Regions from separate parts of the Homo sapiens genome. Here region 1 is linked to region 2. Evidence: fine-mapped expression QTL. A gene starts in region 2. The other region holds a variant in brackets. All regions are shown on one strand. Distances are from middle to middle. Region 1 holds the start of FLVCR1 (FLVCR choline and heme transporter 1). Region 2 holds the start of NSL1 (NSL1 component of MIS12 kinetochore complex).

Evidence for each region.
Region 1: its variant is fine-mapped to the expression of NSL1 in monocytes after interferon gamma (Fairfax 2014, PIP 0.94).

Annotation. Positions count from the first base shown.
Region 1 is chr1:212,851,400-212,859,399 of GRCh38, forward strand. It overlaps FLVCR1 (FLVCR choline and heme transporter 1), which reads left to right and starts at 6,876. Exons shown (of 10, transcript NM_014053.4): 1 at 6,876-7,791. The coding sequence starts at 7,054. FLVCR1-DT (FLVCR1 divergent transcript) reads right to left here and starts at 6,739. Exons shown (of 2, transcript NR_027286.1): 1 at 6,367-6,739; 2 at 5,205-5,519. It also overlaps the pseudogene RPS28P2. RefSeq lists an enhancer at 589-1,176 and silencers at 6,977-7,036, 7,117-7,326. The variant A/T (reference allele first, on the strand shown) is at 3,488.
Region 2 is chr1:212,787,512-212,799,582 of GRCh38, forward strand. It overlaps NSL1 (NSL1 component of MIS12 kinetochore complex), which reads right to left and starts at 4,266. Exons shown (of 6, transcript NM_015471.4): 1 at 4,019-4,266; 2 at 48-126. The coding sequence starts at 4,252. TATDN3 (TatD DNase domain containing 3) reads left to right here and starts at 4,383. Exons shown (of 10, transcript NM_001042552.3): 1 at 4,383-4,476; 2 at 7,584-7,616; 3 at 9,006-9,079; 4 at 9,601-9,685. The coding sequence starts at 4,411. RefSeq lists enhancers at 2,939-3,717, 4,192-4,471, 6,606-7,106, 6,985-7,054, 7,395-7,444.

The DNA.
Region 1 (8,000 bases), 62 kb after region 2:
TACACACTGCTTTGAATGCGTCCCAGAGATTCTGGTATGTTGTGTCTTTGTCCTTTGTAGGGACATGGATGAAACTGGAAACCATCATTCTCAGTAAACTATCGCAAGAACAAAAAACCAAACACCGCATATTCTCACTCATAGGTGGGAATTGAACAATGAGATCACATGGACACAGGAAGGGGAATATCACACTCTGGGGACTGTGGTGGGGTGGGGGGAGGGGGGAGGGATAGCATTGGGAGATATAACTAATGCTAGATGACGAGTTAGTGGGTGCAGCGCACCAGCATGGCACATGTATACATATGTAACTAACCTGCACAATGTGCACATGTACCCTAAAACTTAAAGTATAATAAAAAAAAAAAAGAAAAGTAAAAATTGGAGTAAAAAAAAAAAAAAAAAAAAAAAAGAAGATACCTGTGAGTGAGACCTCTCCCTTCCAAATCGCCATTCGAATATTAATATAGTAAAATATTAGTGCCATTCAGATAGTATTAGGGAGGGTATGGAGTTTATTTCAGGACCAATTGGGAATATCAAGTAGTATAAAACCATTCAGATCTGGGAAAACCAACTTTATTTTAGTGTAAGACATCTGCCAATTTTATGTATTTTGTCATCCTTTTTAATACTGTCTTTGAATGATTTTTTTGGTATGAAAATAAATTTTTAAAGTGAAATAAAAAAAAGAAAATACAGTTTAGTTCAACATAGTTTATGTATATCTGCTTTCACTACATCTTAAGAGATTCAGAAAGTTCTTGTTAATAATAAGGCCCAGCATGGAACTAGGGTGTACTTTGCATTTGTATAACCCAGGTGGAAGAGCATATGTAGGCTAAAGAAACAAACAAAAAACCGATAAAAGAACAATAGGGCCTAGCCAGGGTGAAGGTACCTTAAGGCAACAAGAGAGGGAGGAAGGGGCTTCCGAGAAGGAGGGAAGAAAAAAAACTTCAGAAATAAGTGTTAGAGGGCTGTTGCAGTGGCTCACTAATCCCAGCACTTTGGGAGGGTGAGGTGGACAGATCACTTGAAGTCAGGAGTTCAAGACCAGCCTGGCCAACATGGCGAAACCCCATCTCTACAAAAAACACAAAAATTTGCCGGGCATGGTTGCATGCGCCTGTAATCCCAGCTATTTGGGAGGCTGAAGTGGGAGGTTGAATCTGTTTAGTAAATTGGGGGCTTAGAATATTTCATTTTTGGTTTACAGGGGCTTGAGTTCTCCTTGTGGCCTGTCTCCATATGGCATTTCCTCTAGCTACAGTTTTCAGGAGCTATTTGGTCTCTCAACTCTAAGCATACAAAACCCTTAAGACTCCTCTGTAGTAGATGCTCTGAACAAGCCAGGGCTGGGAAGGAGGTCTATTTATTTTTTGACTCAATTCTTTCATCAGAGTTTCAGTAAGTGAGTTACAAATTAGTGAATCAAGAGGAAACATGTGAAGCAGTTGCACAGTTTTTTCAGAGTAAATCTGGAAATGAAGATATTAGTTGCTACAGGTGGGAGGGGTGAGCAGAGGCAGATTTACCATGAAGTTAATATGAGGGTCTCTGAAGGCTTGTATCTCTCTCTCTCTCTTTTTTTTTTTTGACAAGGCCTCACTCTGTTGCCTAGGCTGGAGTGGCGTGATCTCAGCCCATTGCAGCCTTGACCTCCTGGGCTCAAGCGATCTTCCCACCTCAGCCTCTCAGGTAGCTGGGACTACAGGCATGCACCAGGCCCAGCTAAATACTGTATTTTTTTGGTAGAGAAGGGGTTTCGCCATGTTACCCAGGCTGGTCTTGAACCCAGGCTCGCCATTGCACTCCAGACTGGGCAACAAGAGCGAGACTCCATCTCAAAAAATAAATAAAAAAATAAATAAAAAGATCTAGAAAAGTGACAGAATAATTTGTTCCCATCTCACCAGTTTGGTTTCGCTGTACTGATGACCTCAACTGGCATCATGGACCGAGAAGAAACAAGACAAAAACACAGGAGAAAAAATCCTGGGACTCTTTTTTTTTTTTTTTTTTCAGGAATAAATATATACAAATAAAATGTCTCAATGGAGGGAAGAATACATGTGGGAGGATTCTGATTTCCAACCTTCTCCTCTACTCCTCCATTTCCAACTTGATCTTTTCACAAAATAGAACCATATAGCCTCTGCTGATCAGGTGGACAGAGCCTGATGCTAGTAGGAGTAAACTGAAGGCAAGGTTGCCCAAATCTACCCACCTCCCCATGAAACATCATGGATTGCACATCCAATAGCATTGTTCTGGTTTGCATCTTAACCTCTGAGGCTCGTAAACTGTGGCAAACCTTTGTTCAGGGACAGCTACATCACTCCTATTAGCATCTTGGACCTTGGCTCCTGGATGCTGTCCAGATCTCATATTGCTGAAGTGTTACTTATTCAAATCTCTCTGACTTGGCATTCCACACCCATAAAGTAGCTCAATCTCATCTTGACTCCCAGCCAAACGATGCTCCCAGTAGTATCTTTTTTGACAGAGATTAAGGTTCATTTTACGTTATACATCCAAACATTTGATATAAATAATGACTCATGTTTAAACTGGTTAATAAATATCTACCACTGAAGCCAGAGAAAGAAGACAAGATTAAGAAATTAGAATGGTGGCCGGGCACGGTGGCTCATGCCTGTAACCCCAGCACTTTGGGAGGCTGAGGTAGGTGGATCACCTGAGGTCAGGAGTTCGAGACCAGCCTGACCGACATGGAGAAACCCTGTCTCTACTAAAAATACAAAAATTACCCGGGTGTGGGCACCTGTAATCTCAGTTACTTGGGAGGCTGAGGCAGGAGAATCACTTGAACCCGGGAGGCAGAAGTTGCAGTCAGCTGAGATTTCATCATTGCACTCCAGCCTGGACTCCAAGGGCAAAGCTCTGTGTCAAAAAAAGAAAAAGGAAAAGAGAAAGAAATAGATTTCACTCCCTCCTTCCCTTCCTTCTGGAAGTTTGCAAGACTTTTTTTGTTTTTGTTTTTGTTTTTGTTTTTTTCTGAGACGGAGTCTCGCTCTATCGCCCAGGCTGGAGTGCAGTGGCGCGATCTCGGCTCACTGCAAGCTCCACCTCCTGGGTTTACGCTATTCTCCTGCCTCAGCCTCTCGAGTAGCTGGGACTACAGGCGCCCACCACCATGCCCGGCTAATATTTTGTATTTTTAGTAGAGATGGGCTTCACCGTGTTAGCCAGGATGGTCTTGATCTCCTGACCTCGTGATCCACCCGCCTCGGCCTCCTAAAGTGCTGGGATTACAGGCGTAAGCCACTGCACCTGGCCAAGATTTTTTTTTTTTAAGAAACAGATTTCACGTGGTGGTGGGCGCCTTAATCCCAGCTACTTGAGAGGCTGAGGAGGGAGAATCGCTTGAACCCCGGAAACAGAGGTTGCAGTGAGCCGAGATCGCATCACTGCACTCCAGCCTGGGTGACAAGAGCGAAACTCCGTCTCAAAAAAAAAA[A/T]AAAAATAATAATAATAATTTAAAAAAAGATTTCCTTCCTTCTCTCCTCCCTCCTTTTTTCCTTCCTTCCTTTCTTTTTCTCTCTTTCTTTCTTTCTCTCTCTCTTCTTTCTTTGTCTCTTTCCTTTCTTTTCTTTCTAATTTGGCACACAAACACTTTATTTAAATGCATATCTCAATTCCTGTGCGGCTGGCAAATAAAATAAAGGAGCAGATCATGGCACAGCATTCTCATGGACCAAGTGGTCGAACCCAACATCCAAGACCCAGTGAGCAGCCAAGCTCAGTGCAACCTCCAGGCCTCTCGCTCTGACTCCAACAGGGTGAGCACATAGCCCTTGCGCATGGGGTCTTTTACACTGTGGATGATGGAGTGGCTTGTGTCTTCCATAAATTCCCGCATGCACTGTCCCTGAGAGCTGGTTCTGCCCAGGACCTTGGTGACCCTGGCTAGCTAGATAGGCTGCACATGGCTGGTGTCTGTGATGGCGATGCAGCAGCAGTTGGGCAGAGAGAAGAAATAGATTTCTTTACAAAGCAAGTAATTATTTAAAATATTCACGGTAATTCAGTATTCATTAGCTGTACTCAGTAAATATTTATTGAACAGCTACTATGTGCTAGGTACTCGCACAAAGTACACTGGTTACAAATTCTTGAAAAATAGTAGCGGTAGCAAAAAGCAACAAAACTTTCAGCCCTGCCCTTATGGAACTCACATTCTAGTGGGCAGGGAGAAAATAACCAGAAAAAGGCCCAGCACAATGGCTCATGCCTGTAATCCTAGCACTTTGGGAGGCCGAAGTGAGCTGATCAGTTGAGACCAGTCTGAGCAATGTGGCAAAACCCCATCTCTACAAAAAATACAAAAAGTACTCAGGCTTGGTGGTCAGCCGAGAGAGAGAGAGAGAAGGAAAGAAAGAGAGAGAGAAAGAAAGAAAAGAAAGAAAGAGGCCAGGCTCGGTGGCTCAGGCCTGTAATCCCAGCACTTTGCGAGGCTGAGGCGGGCGGATCACGAGGTCAGGAGTTCAAGACCAGCCTGGCCAATATGGTGAAACCCTGTCTCCACTAAAGAAAAATACAAAAATTAGCCAGGCATGATGGCGCGGGCCTGTAGTTCCAGTTACTCGGGAGGCTGAGGCAGAAGAATCGCTTGAACCTGGGAGGTGGAGGTTGCAGTGAGCCGAGATCGCGCCACTGCACTCCAGCCTGGGTGACAGAGCAAGACTGTCAAAAAAAAAAAGAAAGAAAGAAAATAACCAGAAAAAAAAAGTAAAAATATAGGACATTTTAGGTGAAGGTAAGCACTAGGAAAGAAAGAAAAAAAAAAGCAGGGAAGGGATGTTGGCCGGGGCGGGCGGAGGGGGGGATTTATACAGTTTGGCCAAGGAAGACATTATAATAATGCACTTATTCCTTAGTTTAGAACATGTAGCATTTCACCTGTACCGAGAGATGCCTGATATATTTCATACATGACCAAAATAATAATGTAAGAGGCAATAAAAAAGTGCAGGGTTTTAGGGTTCTAGATATCAGCACATTTTAAGATTAAATGCATGGTAAGAACTTTTGTACTATATACACCTAGTTTGAACTTAAATTTAATAACAAACTCTTTGGAGTCTCTCTCTCTCTCTTTTTTTTTTTTTCCCAAACATAGCTTCCCAAGGAGCAGAAGGGCTGAATTTTCTCTAGTTCCAGGAAGACCGCAAGGCTACTGTGCTCTGGATGTCTCGTTTTTATTTTTTTATTTTTTTATTCTCCAGATCTCAAGACGGTGTCTGGCACATACCATTCAATACAAGTTTGGTACCTGGAACCCACTGAATATGCATGTCCAGTAACTATTAACTACATGTGTTGGTGCAAGGGAGAAGGTCGAGCAACCGGATCTGCTCCATCATAGCCCGTCTCAGTCGCTTCATTCAAGTCAGCGGGGTGAGGTTGAGGGGATTCCAACTTCACAAGGGCAGATTTCTCATGGACTCTCTTTCTCTGGTTGTACTGGAACACTTTCTGGCGTTATTCCTCTGCTGGGACAGCATGAACTTATGAAACGTGGTCCTGTCTGCCCTAAAGCCAGGGTCTCACCGACAAGGACAGCGATGCTGGGGCGAGAAATAAAGTTCGTCCTGGGCCTGCGTACGGTACAGCGCCCTTGGGAAGCCCTTGTGGAGTTAAGGGTGATGCCCACTTCTTTGTCTCCCTCATTCTGTTTCGGTGGCTCTCTCGTTCCCAGTTCCAAGCTGCCCACTTGTTAGAGGAGCCACTGCTTACCAGGCATCTGGTTTAATAAAACATGGCTAGAGCGACTGCATGTTAAAGTGAGTAACTAGGCACTCACAAGGCACCTATAAGGTTAATGCTAAAGGTCTGAAAATAGCCGCATTCTAAGCTGACCAACAATTATAATTACACAATATTTATGGCCATACAGGACATCTCCCACCAAGTCTGCGGAATTGTCCAGATGTCCTGAGTTTTTTTTTTTTTTTTAGACAAGGTCTCACTTTGTCGCCCAGGCTAGGCTGGAGGGCAGTGTGGTGCGATCTCAGCTCACTGCAACCTCCGCCTCCCAGGTTCAAGTAGTTCTCCTGCCTCAGCCTCCTGAGTAGCTGGGACTACAGGCATGCACCACCACGCCTGGCTACTGGCTTTTTTTTTTTTTTTTTTTTTTTTAAATAGATGGCATCTCAGTATGTTGCCCAGGCTGGTCTCGAACTCCTGGGCTCAAGGGAGACTCCTGTCCGGCCTCCCACAGTGCTGGGATTACAGACGTGGCCACCGAGCCCGGCCCAGCCCTCTACTCAGAGATAACGTCAATGCGCAGGCTTAGGTTGAAGGATTAATGGTCATTAGTGCACCAACAGCCCCTACCTTTAGTGGGCACATCAGCACATTCCACGATTAATCACAGCTCCTCACAGCTGCCTCTAAGTAGTGACACTACCGAAGGACGGGAGTTCCTCCTCCTGCAGTCTGAGGACTTGCACTCTCTAACGGAGTAGATTCCAATAAACTTGCTTCCTTCACTGCGCTCTGTGACTCGCCTCCAATTCTTCCCTGAAGTAGACCCAAGAACCCTCTCTTGGGGTCTGGATCGAGACCCCTTTTTCCAGCAACACAACCCGCGGGGCCGCCTCCCGCCCACCCTCAGGTGCAGGAGACCCCGGGCCATGCATCCTTCCGGGCAGGAAAATGTCAGCCAGCGCTCGCCGGCCGCTTTCCTCCCCCGCCTCCCGAAGTTCTCGCCCGGTAGCTCCCCGACTGGCTCTCGCGCCGGACAAAGGCGCACGCTGATTGGCCGGAGGGCCGTAGTCATGCAGGACGCGCGACTCTAGGGGCGGGACCAGACAAGGGGTGACTGCCGCGCGGCGCGGGGGAGGAGACCTTCATCTGTTCACGCGGTAGCGCGGATTGCGGTTCGCGGCGCGCGCCACCGGGGAAGGAGCGGTGGGCCGAGGGGTTGGAGGTGGGGCCCCAGGAGGACCTCGGGCTGTGGGCCGGGAGAGCGGAGTCGGGGAGTGGGGCGGGGGAGCGAGGTGGCGCCGGGGAGCCTGGGATATGGCGCGGCCAGACGATGAGGAGGGGGCGGCGGTGGCGCCCGGACACCCGCTCGCGAAAGGATACCTCCCGTTGCCGAGGGGCGCGCCCGTTGGGAAGGAGAGCGTGGAGCTGCAGAACGGGCCCAAAGCGGGCACCTTCCCGGTGAATGGGGCCCCCCGGGACAGCCTCGCTGCCGCCTCGGGAGTTCTGGGCGGGCCTCAGACTCCACTGGCCCCAGAAGAGGAGACCCAGGCCCGGCTGCTGCCTGCGGGCGCGGGAGCTGAGACCCCGGGGGCCGAGAGCAGCCCGCTGCCCCTTACGGCGCTCTCCCCGCGGCGCTTCGTGGTGCTCCTGATCTTCAGCCTGTACTCGCTGGTCAACGCCTTTCAGTGGATCCAGTACAGCATCATTAGCAACGTCTTCGAGGGCTTCTACGGTGTCACCTTGCTGCACATCGACTGGCTGTCCATGGTGTACATGCTGGCCTACGTGCCCCTCATCTTCCCGGCCACCTGGCTGCTGGACACCAGAGGCCTGCGGCTCACCGCCCTGCTGGGCTCCGGCCTCAACTGCCTGGGTGCCTGGATCAAGTGCGGCAGTGTGCAGCAGCATCTCTTCTGGGTCACCATGTTGGGCCAGTGCTTGTGCTCGGTGGCCCAGGTGTTCATCCTGGGCTTGCCCTCCCGCATCGCCTCAGTGTGGTTTGGGCCCAAAGAGGTGTCCACAGCTTGTGCCACCGCCGTGCTGGGCAATCAGGTAAGTACTGGAGTGGTAGGTGAAAGTCAGATCCTTAAAAGACCGGAAAAAGTCATAGGCCGTGAGAACTATGGCCTGTATGGATGAACTGCCCCAGGAGGTATTTGTCTATAAAAGAGGAGATGAAGCCGTTGAATAGGAGGCCGTCTTGGATTGAAGTGGGCTATAAATTTCTTTGTAAGGACAAAATTTTCCAAACGACCTTGTCA
Region 2 (12,071 bases):
TGCAAAAATAACCCAGAAATTAATAATGGAAGGAAAAAGTCACATACCCATAAAACAATTATCTGAAGCTTCCTGCCATGCTTGCCCATTAATGCTGATATTCTCTTGCACAGCTGATTCAAAAGTCTGCAATAAATTCACAGTAGTCAAGTCACTAAAAATAATTTTAAATACTAAATTCAAACGTTTTAGCAAAATAATACTTCCAGATTTGTGACAGAGGAAATAAAAGTAGCAGAATAGCTAATTAGTATATCTATTCTTTTCAATGAAGATTCCACTTCAATCATTGATTCTACCTACATTTTGGGTCTCATAGCCATTATGCTACCCAAGAGAAAATCTGATTTAAAATTTTGGAATATTCTTATAAACAAACAAAAAAAAGTACTCCTAGAATGAAAGAAAAAATAAAATCTAACAAATTTAGGCTCAGTTGAATCTCAGGGGTATAAGTACTATATATGCTGCTGAATGACTGTTGATGTTAACAAGAGGGAAAACATACATGCTTAAAAATAAAATTATATTTTATAAAGGGCTGTATTTTTGAGAGATGAACACTTATGTAGCGATGAAATGACATGAGATCTAAGATATGCTTTAAAATAGCAAACGTAGGCCAGGTGCAGTGGCTCACGCCTATAATCCCATCACTTTGGGAAGCCAAGGCAAGAGGATTGCTTGAGGCCAGTTCCAGACCAGCCTAGGCAACACACTGAGACAACCTTCTCTACTAAAAAATTTAAAAATTAGCCAGGCACAGTGGCACATGCCTGTAGTCCCGGCTACTTGAAAGGCTGAGGCTAGAGGATTACTTGAGCCCAGTGGTTTGAGAATACAGTGAGCTATGATTGCCACTGTACTCCAGCCTGGGAGACAGAGGGAGAAGCAACTGTAACAAAATTTTGACAACTGTTGAGTTTGGTGGTGGATATATGGGTGTCCACTGTACTAAACTAATTTTTTGTAAGGTTGAAAATGTTCATAATACATTAAAAGATAAAGAACCAAAAAACAAAAAACAAAAACAAACAAAAAATAGACAAATTGGACTTCATCAAAATTTTTTTTAAATGATGGACTAAAGGAATTCGGCAGTACACATTTCCTATTACCCAACAATTTCACTTCTAGCAATGCATCCTAAAGGACTACTCTCATAAAAACTAAAGAGAATGTGCTAGAAATGTTCATTTCAGCACTGTTTGAAATTTTTAAAATTGTGGGAAAAAACCTAAAGTCAAAATTAGAAGAGTTAAATAGACAATATTCATACCACGCAGTACCTAAAAAGGATGAAGACAAGCTCTACGTAACACTAACAAATAATAGACATGTTTGGTTTCAAAAAAGGCAGGTCAATAACAATTCATCAGCATGACATTATTAATGGAGACAAACAAACATAAACAGAGAGAAAGAGGTAAAGCCACAGAAAGGGGGTATAGAAAGTTTACTCTCCCCAAGTACTCTCCAAAATAGTACCTTATGTCCTAGAAGGAAGAGGGATGGGGAAGGGGAACTCAAAGAATTTTGCTTTATGCTACTGTTTGAATTTTTTTATGAGCATATATTTTGTACCCTTTGTATAATTAAAAATAACATAAACCAAATTACTGATAATTATGAGTTAAAGTACATATTCTACATTTCAAAGATTTCATAAAGTAAAATCCTTATTTTATTTTTTGTTTGTTTGTTTTTTGTTTTTTTTGAGATGGAGTTTCACTCTTGTCAACCAGGCTGGAGTGCAATGGCGCAATCTTGGCTCACTGCAACCTCCGCTTCCCAGGTTCAAGCGATTCTCCTGCCTCAGTCTCCCGAATAGCTGGGATTACAGGCAAGCGCCATCACACCCGGCTAATTTTTGTATTTTTAGTATAGACAGGGTTTCACCGTGTTGGCCAGGCTGGTCTGGAACTCCTGACCTCAGGTGATCCGCCCGCCTCAGCCTCCCAAAGTGCTGGGATTACAGGCGTAAGCCATCGCGCCCGGCCTATGTATGTTTTAAAATTATTTTCTAGAATTACTTTCAAGAATTGCTGAGAAAACATATTGTCTTTGTAACATTCATTGCAGACTGCTACCAATACTGTTTTTAAAGAAAATCTGCTACTTAATATGCAGTTTTAAACAGAGATACAAAATAAAGCTTCTGCTTTATTTAAAATAAAACACAAGTGAATTCCTGTGGTAGTCTAAGCCCTGTAAACTTTATCTTATAATTCACTTTATCGTCCCACTAAATAGGATATAATAGGTTAAGCCAAGTTCCTCTTTTTCTGTAAGACACCTAAATGTTTTAAATACCTTAGCATTTCCTAGAATCAGACAAATTCTAAGATTATACAACAAAAGTCTTCTCCCAAAAAACTACTAAAAACGTCCTGAGATATATCCCTATTCTTGCCTTGCTTGCAAGGAGGGAATGACGTAAGAGTCACTATATACAAAACTACATACAGAGTCACAACCCAGGAAGTGTTTCTTCATTCTTCCACTGAACCTTTTTTTTTTGAGATGGAGTCTCGCTCTGTCACCCAGGCTGGAGTGCAGTGGCGAGATCTGGGCTCACTGCAAGCTCCGCCTCCCGGGTTCACGCCATTCTCCTGCCTCAGCCTCCCGAGTAGCTGGGACTACAGGTGCCTGCCACCATGGCCGGCTAATTTTTTGTATTATTATTATTATTGTTTTAGTAGAGACGGGGTTTCACCATGTTAGCCAGGATGGTCTCGATCTCCTGACCTCGTGATCCGCCCGCCTCGGCCTCCCAAAGTGCTGGGATTACAGGCGTGAGCCACCGCGCCCGACCCCTTTTGCCTGTTTTAGAGTGAAAACATTTTCTTTACAAGACTAAAATAGGTTAAAAAAAATTGTGTTGGTTGAAAACTTTACTAAGATCATACATTTGCCTCTATACCACATTTCCCAAGCCTTTCTTAAATATTTTTGCAAAGCCCTGAAGGTGGTAGTTTTTTGGGAACACAAGAAATAAAGGGATTGTGTGCTTCCTTATAACAGGCACCAATCTACTTATATTAGCGGAAAAAATTTAAAAGCTCATAATACCGCACATTTGTGAGTTATGAATGACCACAGTGCAAACAGTAAAAATAAAGGTTAATAGGCCGGGCGAGGTGGCTCACGCCTGTAATACCAGCACTTTGGGAGCCCAAGGCGGGCGGATCACGAGGTCAGGAGATCGAGACCATGCTGGCTAACACGGTGAAACCCTGTCTCTACTAAAAACACAAAAAAATTAGCCGGGCGTGGTGGCAGGCGCCTGGAGTCCCAGCTACTCAGGAGGCTGAGGCAGGAGAATGGCGTGAACCCAGGAGGCGGAGCTTGCAGTGAGCCGAGATCGCGCCACTGCACTCCAGCCTGGGCGACAGAGCGAGACTCTGTCTCAAAAAAAAAAAATAAAATAAAATAAATAAATAAATAAAACATGCAAAAGGAAAGATCAAATGCTGCTTGGGTGAATGGCTGACTTCCAGAATTACCCTTTCCAGGAGAATTCCTCATTGTCTGCGGCTGCATTGTCCAACAGGTGAGCCACTAGCCACTTTGTAGTTACTGAGCGCTTAAATGTAACTAGTTCGAAGATGTGCCGTAAATGCAGCACACCAGATTTGAAAAGCTTAGTACGAACAAAAGAATGTAAAATATCTCATTCATTTGATATTATTACATGTTAAAATACCTTGGATTTATTGGGTTAAACAAAATGTCTTATTTCCATTAACTTCACCTATTTCTTACTTTTAGTTTAAAACTACATAAAGATTAGCTTGCCTTGTATTTTCACTGGACAGCGCTGGTCTAAGTAATTAATAAGACCCAGCTGACATTAGCATCTATTTCTTTCTCCTCTAGCGTTTCTCGAACTGGTTCTACAGTAGCCTGGGGCACCGTTAATTCTGCCAAGGCCTGGCGTGGGATCTTTCTGAATCCTAAGATCCTGGGTGTTGGGTAAGAGGATGATGAGTAAAGAACTGGCTAACTGGTCCCGTACCCACTGCGCATCTCGCAGAGCGGGCTCCCGAATCTCCTCCGGCAGAGCGTCCCCGAGCTTTTGCACGAAGCGGCCGCACAGTTGTAGCATTTCGGTCACAGCCCGCTTCGAGGTGCAGCGCACCCGAAAGTCTTCTCGGGGAGTGGCGGAGACCAAGGCCTGGCTCTCTGTGCCAGCCGCGAGCTCCTTGTCCCATGGAGGGTCAAGGACCACCAACTCAGGAGACCCCGCCATTTTTCGTCGGAACTGTGGGCGGGGCACTCTGGGAGCGGAAAAGCGGGTTCACACTGGTGTAACCAGCATGCATCCGGCTGGAAACTCAGGACGCTGCAGCTGAAACGTTCCGGCTCCGGCTCTGCTGGCCGGTCTAAAGCGGCAGCCGCCGGGGCGCAATGCGAGCGGCTGGCGTAGGCTTGGTGGACTGTCACTGCCACCTCTCCGCCCCGGACTTTGACCGCGTATGTGAGGGCGATACGGGACCAGAGGGAGCAGGGAGGCCCCCGTCCTTTCCCCTCGTGTTATCTTTGCTCTCCTCCCTTGGGACGAAACCCCATATCCCCCGCCCAGACCCTTGTTTATGGCCATATGACCTTGCCCCTCATTTCCCTATTCCCTATTTAACCTCAGACATACCGATTTTTTTTTCCTGATTCAGTAGCGGTAAGCTATCTCCACAAGGCTTTTGTTTGCTCTTCTGAGTTCCTGGAATCGTTCCCTCACTCCCCTTGGCTGGCCTGTTTTTCCCCTCGGGGCTCTCACCTCCTGGCTGAGATGCCACTCTTTGTGGGAAGCGGTCCTCGAAACGCGTTCAAATCGGGGAGAGGTCGGGCGCGGGCTCACGCCCGTAATCCCAGCACTTTGGGAGGCCGAGGCGGGCGCTGCGCATCTCCTGTGTCCAGGAGATCGTGACCAGCCTGGGCAACATGGTGAAACCTCGTCCCTACAAAAAAAAAAAAAAAGCCGGTGATTGTGGCGTTTGCCTGTGGTCCCAGCTACTCGGGAGGCTGAGGTGGGAGAATCGCTGGAGCCCAGGAGGTGGAGGTTGCAGTGAGCTGACATCAAGCCACTGCACTCCAGCCTGGGTAACAGTGAGACCCTGTCTCAAAAAAAAAAAAAAAAAAAAATTCACAAATGGGGGAGAGAGGCAAACAAACAAACAAAAATACATGGCCGAGTGTGGTTGCTCACACTTGTAATCCTAGCACTATGAGAGGCCGAAGTGGGTGGATCGCTTGAGCCCAGGAGTTTGAGACCAGCCTGGGCAATGTGGTGAGACCCCGTCTCAATTAAAATAATAATACACACGTAAAATCAGTTACAAACTGTTTTACCCATTACGTGGGAAACTAGAGACTAATAATAGAGGATTAAGGGGGGTTTTATTTCAGGGGGAAATCCTCCCAGGAGCTGACACTTAAGGCTGAAAAGACAAGGAGCCACCCAAGCAAGGGGGTGAGTGTATGCTGGTTAGGGAAACAGATAGGTTGCAGGCCCCCAGACAAGCTAGAATTTGGCACATTTCAGTTGCCAAAAAGCTAAGTGGAGCCTGATGAGCTAGAAAGAGAAAGGCATGAAACAAAACTGGGGAGGTTTGCAGGGGATAGATGAGGTGGGTCAGTAAGGAATTTGGATTGCATTTGAAGCACAATGCAGATTCATTAAAGGGCTTTTTTAAAATTTATTTTCATTTTTTTATTTTTTTAGATTGAGTCTGGCTGTGTCCCTCAGGCTGAAATGCAATAGCATGATCTCAGGTCATTGCAACCTCCACCTCCTGGGCTCAAAAAATTCTCCTGTCTCAGCCTCCCAAGTAGCTGGGATCACAGGTGTGTCCCACCACGCCTGGCTAATTTTTTGTATTTTTAATAGAGACAGAGTTTTGCCATGTTGTCCAGGCTGGTCTTGAACTTCTGGCCTCAAGTGATCAACCCTCCTTGGCCTCCCAAAGTCCTGGGATTACACAAAAATGGATAGGCATGATGCTATCCATTTTAACACCATTTTGCTGCTGTATGGCAAATGGGTGGAGGAGAAGAGTGGAAGCTACAAGACTAGTTAGGAGGCTTTTGCAGTATATAGGCAAGAGATGTTGGCTGTTGGTACTATGATGATAGCAGGTGAGTTTGAGATGAATACATGGATTCAAGATACATTTTAGAGAGAGAATCCACAGTAAGTACTGAAGAATTGGATGTGGATAGCAAGGGAAAGGGAGGAGTCAAGGATGACTCAGATTATTAGCTTGTGCTATAGGGAAGATGGTGGTGCTGGTTTACTGAGATAAGGGAAGACCAAGGTCTGAGGTGGAGGTGGGGAGGTCAGCAGAAGGAATAGGTTTGTGGGGAGAAAATAAAGATTTATGTTTGGGGCATATTGGGAAACCTAATCCCATCCAAATGAAGATGTCATAATTTTTAAACATGAGTCATGGGCTCAGGAGAGAATTACAAGCTAAAGATAAAAATTGGGGGCCGGGCGCAGTGGCTCATGCCTGTAATCTCAGCACTTTGGGAGGCCGAGGTGGGCAGATCATAAGGTTAGGAGATCGAGACCATCCTGGCTAACATGGTGAAACCCTGTCGCTACTAAAAGTACAAAAAAATTAGCTGGGCATGGCAGCATGTGCCTGTAGTCCCAGCTACTTGGGAGGCTGAGGCAGGAGAATGGTGTGAACCCGGGAGGCGGAGCTTGCAGTGAGCCGAGATCGTGACACTGCACTCCAGCCTGGGTGACAGAGCGAGACTCCATCTCAAAAAAAAAAAAAAAAATTGGGGACTCAGGCTGGGTTCGATGGCTCACACCTGTAGTCCCAGCACTTTGGGAGGCCAAGGTGGGTGGGTCACCTGAGATCAGGAGTTAAAGACCAGCTTGGCCAACATGGTGAAACACCATCTCTACTAAAAATACAAAATTTAGCTGAGTGTGGTGGCGGTCACCTGTAATCCCAGCTACTCTGGAGGCTGAAGCAGGAGAATCACTTGAACCCGGGTGGCAGAGGTGGCAATGAGCCGAGATCGCACCATTGCACTACAGCTGGGAGACAAGAGTGAAACTTCATCTCAAAAAAAAGAAAAAAAATGGGGGCCTCAGCATAATGATGATAAAACCATGAGAGGAAGTGAAATCACTCAAGGCAAGTGCAGAGAGAGGAGCAGATGTTCTTGAAGTCTGAAAGAGGAAGGGGAGCTAGTCAAGGAGACTGACAAGTAGCCACCAATGAGAGAGTGGTATTGCAGAAGTGAAGGGTGGAAAGCATTTCAAGAAGGAAGGAGTAAGCAAGTGAGGGATTCCGAATGCTGCTGAGGAGTAGAGTAAGATGAGGACAGAGAAATACCCTGTATATTTGACAATAGAGGCTTCTGTTTTAGTGCTGGGAACAGTAGCCAGACTTTACTGATAGTAAGAGTAAACAGGAAGTGGGTCAGTGTAGGCTCTTTGTTTTCCACCACTCCATTAGTTGCTATCATTGTTATTTTTTGTGATGCCACAACTACATTGACATATACAGTCCAAGATTAGCTGCTTATTCATCTAAAATAATGGTGATTTCTTATGCTTGTTTTAGGATTTGGATGATGTGTTGGAGAAAGCCAAGAAGGTAAGTCAATATTTGTAATTGCTCTTTTGGTTTTTTATTTTAACTATCATTTCAAGCCAAAACAGCTTGAAATTTAGATATACTACCTTGATGTTTCAGTAGTTTATAGTAAGTAGCATTTTTTATTTTTATTATTTTATTTATTTATTTATTTATTTATTGAGACAGAGTCTCGCTCTGTCGCCCAGGCTGGAGTGCAGTCGTGTGATCTTAGCTCACTGCAACCTCTGCCTCCAAGGTTCAAGTGATTCTCCTGCCTCAGCCTCCTGAGTAGCTGGGACTATAGGCACACGTCACTGCACCCAGATAATTTTTGTATTTTTAGTAGAGACAGGGTTTCACCATGTTGGCCAGGCTGGTCTTGAACTCCTGACCTGAGGTGATCTGCCCACCTCGACCTCCCAAAGTGCTGAGATTGCAGGCGTGACCCACTACGACCAGCCAATTTTTATTATTTATAATTAAAATAGAGACAAGATCTGACTATATTGCCCAGGCTGGTGTCAAACTTCTGAGCTCAAGCAATCTACCCACCTTGGGCTCCCAAAATGCTGGGATTATAGGCATGCGGCACTGCTCCCAGCCTAAGTAGCATTTATTAAGTGTTTGCTACATGCCAGGTAGTGAGCTAAGGCCTTTCTCGACTTTACCTCATTCAATGTTTCACAATAGCCTTCTGAGGAAATTACTAATTTATAGCCAATCATTCCCCATTTTTATAGATGAGGAATCTAAGGCCTAGAGATGAGTAACTGGTCCAAAGACACATGCTAGTGAACTGATAGAGACAAGTTAGTCTGAATTCAAAACATGTTCCTATAGCTACCATGCTCAACAGCCCTATGGAACAAATTGGTCCATCTTTCAGTTTTTAAATTCATGTGGTTCTGGAGATCTGGGATATATTATTAAAGTTTTCTGAGATGTTTTGATTTGCTTAGAAAAATTATTTTTTTGGAAGTGTTTATGAAATTCATTGTAACTAGCATTTTGTGGCCATCTCAAAAAATGATACAGCCAGAAATGGTTGTAGTGCATTTTTACATACAGGTAACTTTCACTGTGGCAGCTTAATTAGGAATGTGGGCTTTGGACATATATAGACCTGATGACCTTGGGCAAGTTATTCGACATCCAAAACTCTGTCTCCTGATCTATACAGTAGACTATAGCCTACTTTATAGGTTTCTGTAAATTAAATGAGGCAATATTTATATTCACTGAACATAAGGTCTGAAACATAGTAAATACTCAATGATAGCCCTTCTGATTGTATTGATGAAGCATGGCTGAACAAGGATAACTAAAATGCAGAGAAAACTTTAAAATTTTCTATAATTTATATTAAATGTATATTGTTTGTAACTTTATTCTTTTTTTTTTTTTCAGGCCAATGTTGTGGCCCTTGTGGCAGTTGCCGAACATTCAGGAGAATTTGAAAAGATTATGCAACTTTCAGAAAGGTGCTACTTTTAATTAAGATTTTAAAGGGTTGCTAATAAGAACACAGTTATGACATCCAGTTTATAATATCAAAGATCCATTTTTAAAGAGAATAAAGAGGAAAAAGCATTTTAACATAGCCCTAAAGAGATTATTTTCTACTTATTCCTTTTTTTTTTCTTTGAGAGATGGAGTCTTGCTCTGTCACCCAAGCTGGAGTGCAGTGGCGCAATGTTGGCTCACTGCAACCTCTGCCTCCTGGTTTCAAGCAATTCTCTGCCTCAGCCTCCCAAGTAGCTGGGTCTAAAGCATGCACCACCAGGCCTGGCTAATTTTTATATTTTTTGTAGATACAGGATTTCACCATGTTGGCCAGGCTGGTCTCAAACTCCTGGCCTTAAGTGATCCACCTGGTTCAGCCTCCCAAAGTGCTGGAATTACAGACATAAGCCACCATGCCCGACCTCTACTTATTCTTTAGAATACGTTGTAATCTACTAGTCTACTGTTCCTGCTTTCTCAGTTGGTTCTACATTTTTAGGTATAATGGGTTTGTCCTGCCATGCTTGGGTGTTCATCCAGTTCAAGGACTTCCACCAGAAGACCAAAGAAGTGTCACACTAAAGGTAACAGTCATACAAAACAGGAACCATTAAAAACAAACAAACGAAAGAATTATTTGACTCAGTAATCCTCCTCTTTCTAATTTATATTCTCAGGAAATAATCCAAAAGAAGGAAACATTACCTTCTTTAACAAAGATGTTTGTTGCAACATTATTCGTAATAGAGAAAAAGTAGAAACAGCCTAGAGGTTCAGAAACAAAGGAATCATTAGTTAAGTTGTAGAGTGTTAAATATAATGCATTTATAGAAAATGAGGATTATAAAGTATTATAGCACATGGAAAATACTTACTGTATAATATAGGGAGAAAAGCAGGATACCAAATAGCATATTCACTATGAGTGACATCTACATAAGCATATATTCATAAGGAAAAGACTGCAGAGAAAACACAGAAATGATAGTAATTGTGATGATCTGTTAGAATTATCTGTAACTTTTTTCACATTTTTTTGGTACTGTAGTCATGTTGCTTTGGCAAAAAAGTGATAGAATATCTAGAAAAAGAAAGATACAAATTCAGAGGTGCCATATACTATTAGGGAACAGATTAGTTCAAGTAAGTAGTATTATCTTTGAACATAGAACCATTGTTACAGGATTGCTCTCCAGCTATTAAATTGCACTGATTTTGTACCCTCTCTAAAAACATCCTACCCGCACTGACTCACGATAGTTGGTATGTCTTATATTTCACACTTGTCTCCTGACTCAGCATCAGGAAGATCCACAGTTTCATGAGTGTTTTATTGCATAATGGGTTTGATAGCCCCATTTCAAAGAAGTAATGACTTTTTGTTACCTATGAATAAATTAAGATATAGTGCCATTTAAAAAATAATAATGTAGGCTGGACACAGTGGCTCGTGCCTGTAATCCCAGCACTTTGGTAGGCTGAGGTGGGTGGATCATGAGGTCAGGAGATTGAGACCTTCCTGGCTAACATGGTGAAACCCTGTCTGTACTAAAAATACAAAAACTTATCCAGGTGTGGTGGCGTGCACCTGTAGTCCCAGCTACTCGGGAGACTAAGGTGGGAGAATCGTTTGAACCCAGGAGGCGAAGATTGTAGTAAGCTGAGATTGCTCCAGTGCACTCCAGCCTGGGTGACAGAGTGAGACTCCATCTCAAAAAAAAAATAATAATAATAATGTATCTCTCTTCCTATATTAAGATACCTTAGGTAGCTAGCTCTACTTATTTCAAAATAAAATTCATGACCAGGCATGGTGGCTCACACCTGTAATCCTAACACTTTGGGAGGCCGAGATGGGAGGACCACTTGAGCTCAGGAGTTCAAGACCAGCCTGGGCAACATGGACGCTATCTCTCAAAAACTCAAAAAAAAAAAAAAAAAAAAAAGAAAAGAAAATTCATTCATTTCAGGTAAAAATGCTTATCCTGTAGCTATCCTGAATTGTTAAGTATGATAAAATTAGCTACATTGCCAATCACAATTCTACAAATGTGGAATCATAGCAAGGCAGCACTTCTTTCATTTATGTGGGGATTTATACTAATAGACATTCATTTAGTTAGGTAGTCAACCAGTGTGTACTGAGCACCTGCTACATGCCAGGCACTGCTGTCAGCACTGCAGACCCAATAATGAGTAAGATCCTGCTCATGGAAGCTAGATTCTAGATGGCCCAGACAGACAGTCAACAATTACATGAGCAGGAAAACTTTCGATAGCACTAAGTGCTTTGAAGACAGTAAAACAAGATTATATAGTAGGTGTTGTGAATGCTGATTGTTAGATGATATCATCAAGGAAGGACTCTGGTAGTGACAATTGAGCTGCAACCTGAATGCTACAAAGGAACTGGCCATGCAAAGAGAGGATCAGGGTGTTATGTGCAAAGGAAACAGCAAAGCACAAAGGTCCCAAGGTAGGAATAAGCTCAGTGTAGTCAAGAAACAGAAAGAGGGCTCATATGGCTAGAGAAAGAGAGGAAGTGATAGTGATGGGGTAAGAGGGATGGGTGGAGATCTCATACAGGACCTTGTTGGATTTTAGTTTACATGCAGTGGAGGGTTTAATGTGAGAAGTACCAAGACGTAATTTATGTTTTAAAAAGATCCTCTTGGCTCTGGCCAAAATGAGTTTGGTGAAGAAAAAAAACCCCTTGGCTAAGGTATGAAGAGTGAGTTTTGAAGAGGGTAAAAAATGAAAAGGGGAAAAAGTTAGAAGGCTACAAATGATGCTGGATGGGACCAGAGTACTAGCATTGGAGGTAGAGAAATGGGTGGATTTGGCATATATTTGGCATTAATATAGAATTGATTGGACTGGTTAACTTACCAAAGTAATTAATATGCCAACAGTATGATAGGTACTTCTTTTTTTTTTTTTTTTGAGATAGAATCTTGCTCTGTCACCCAG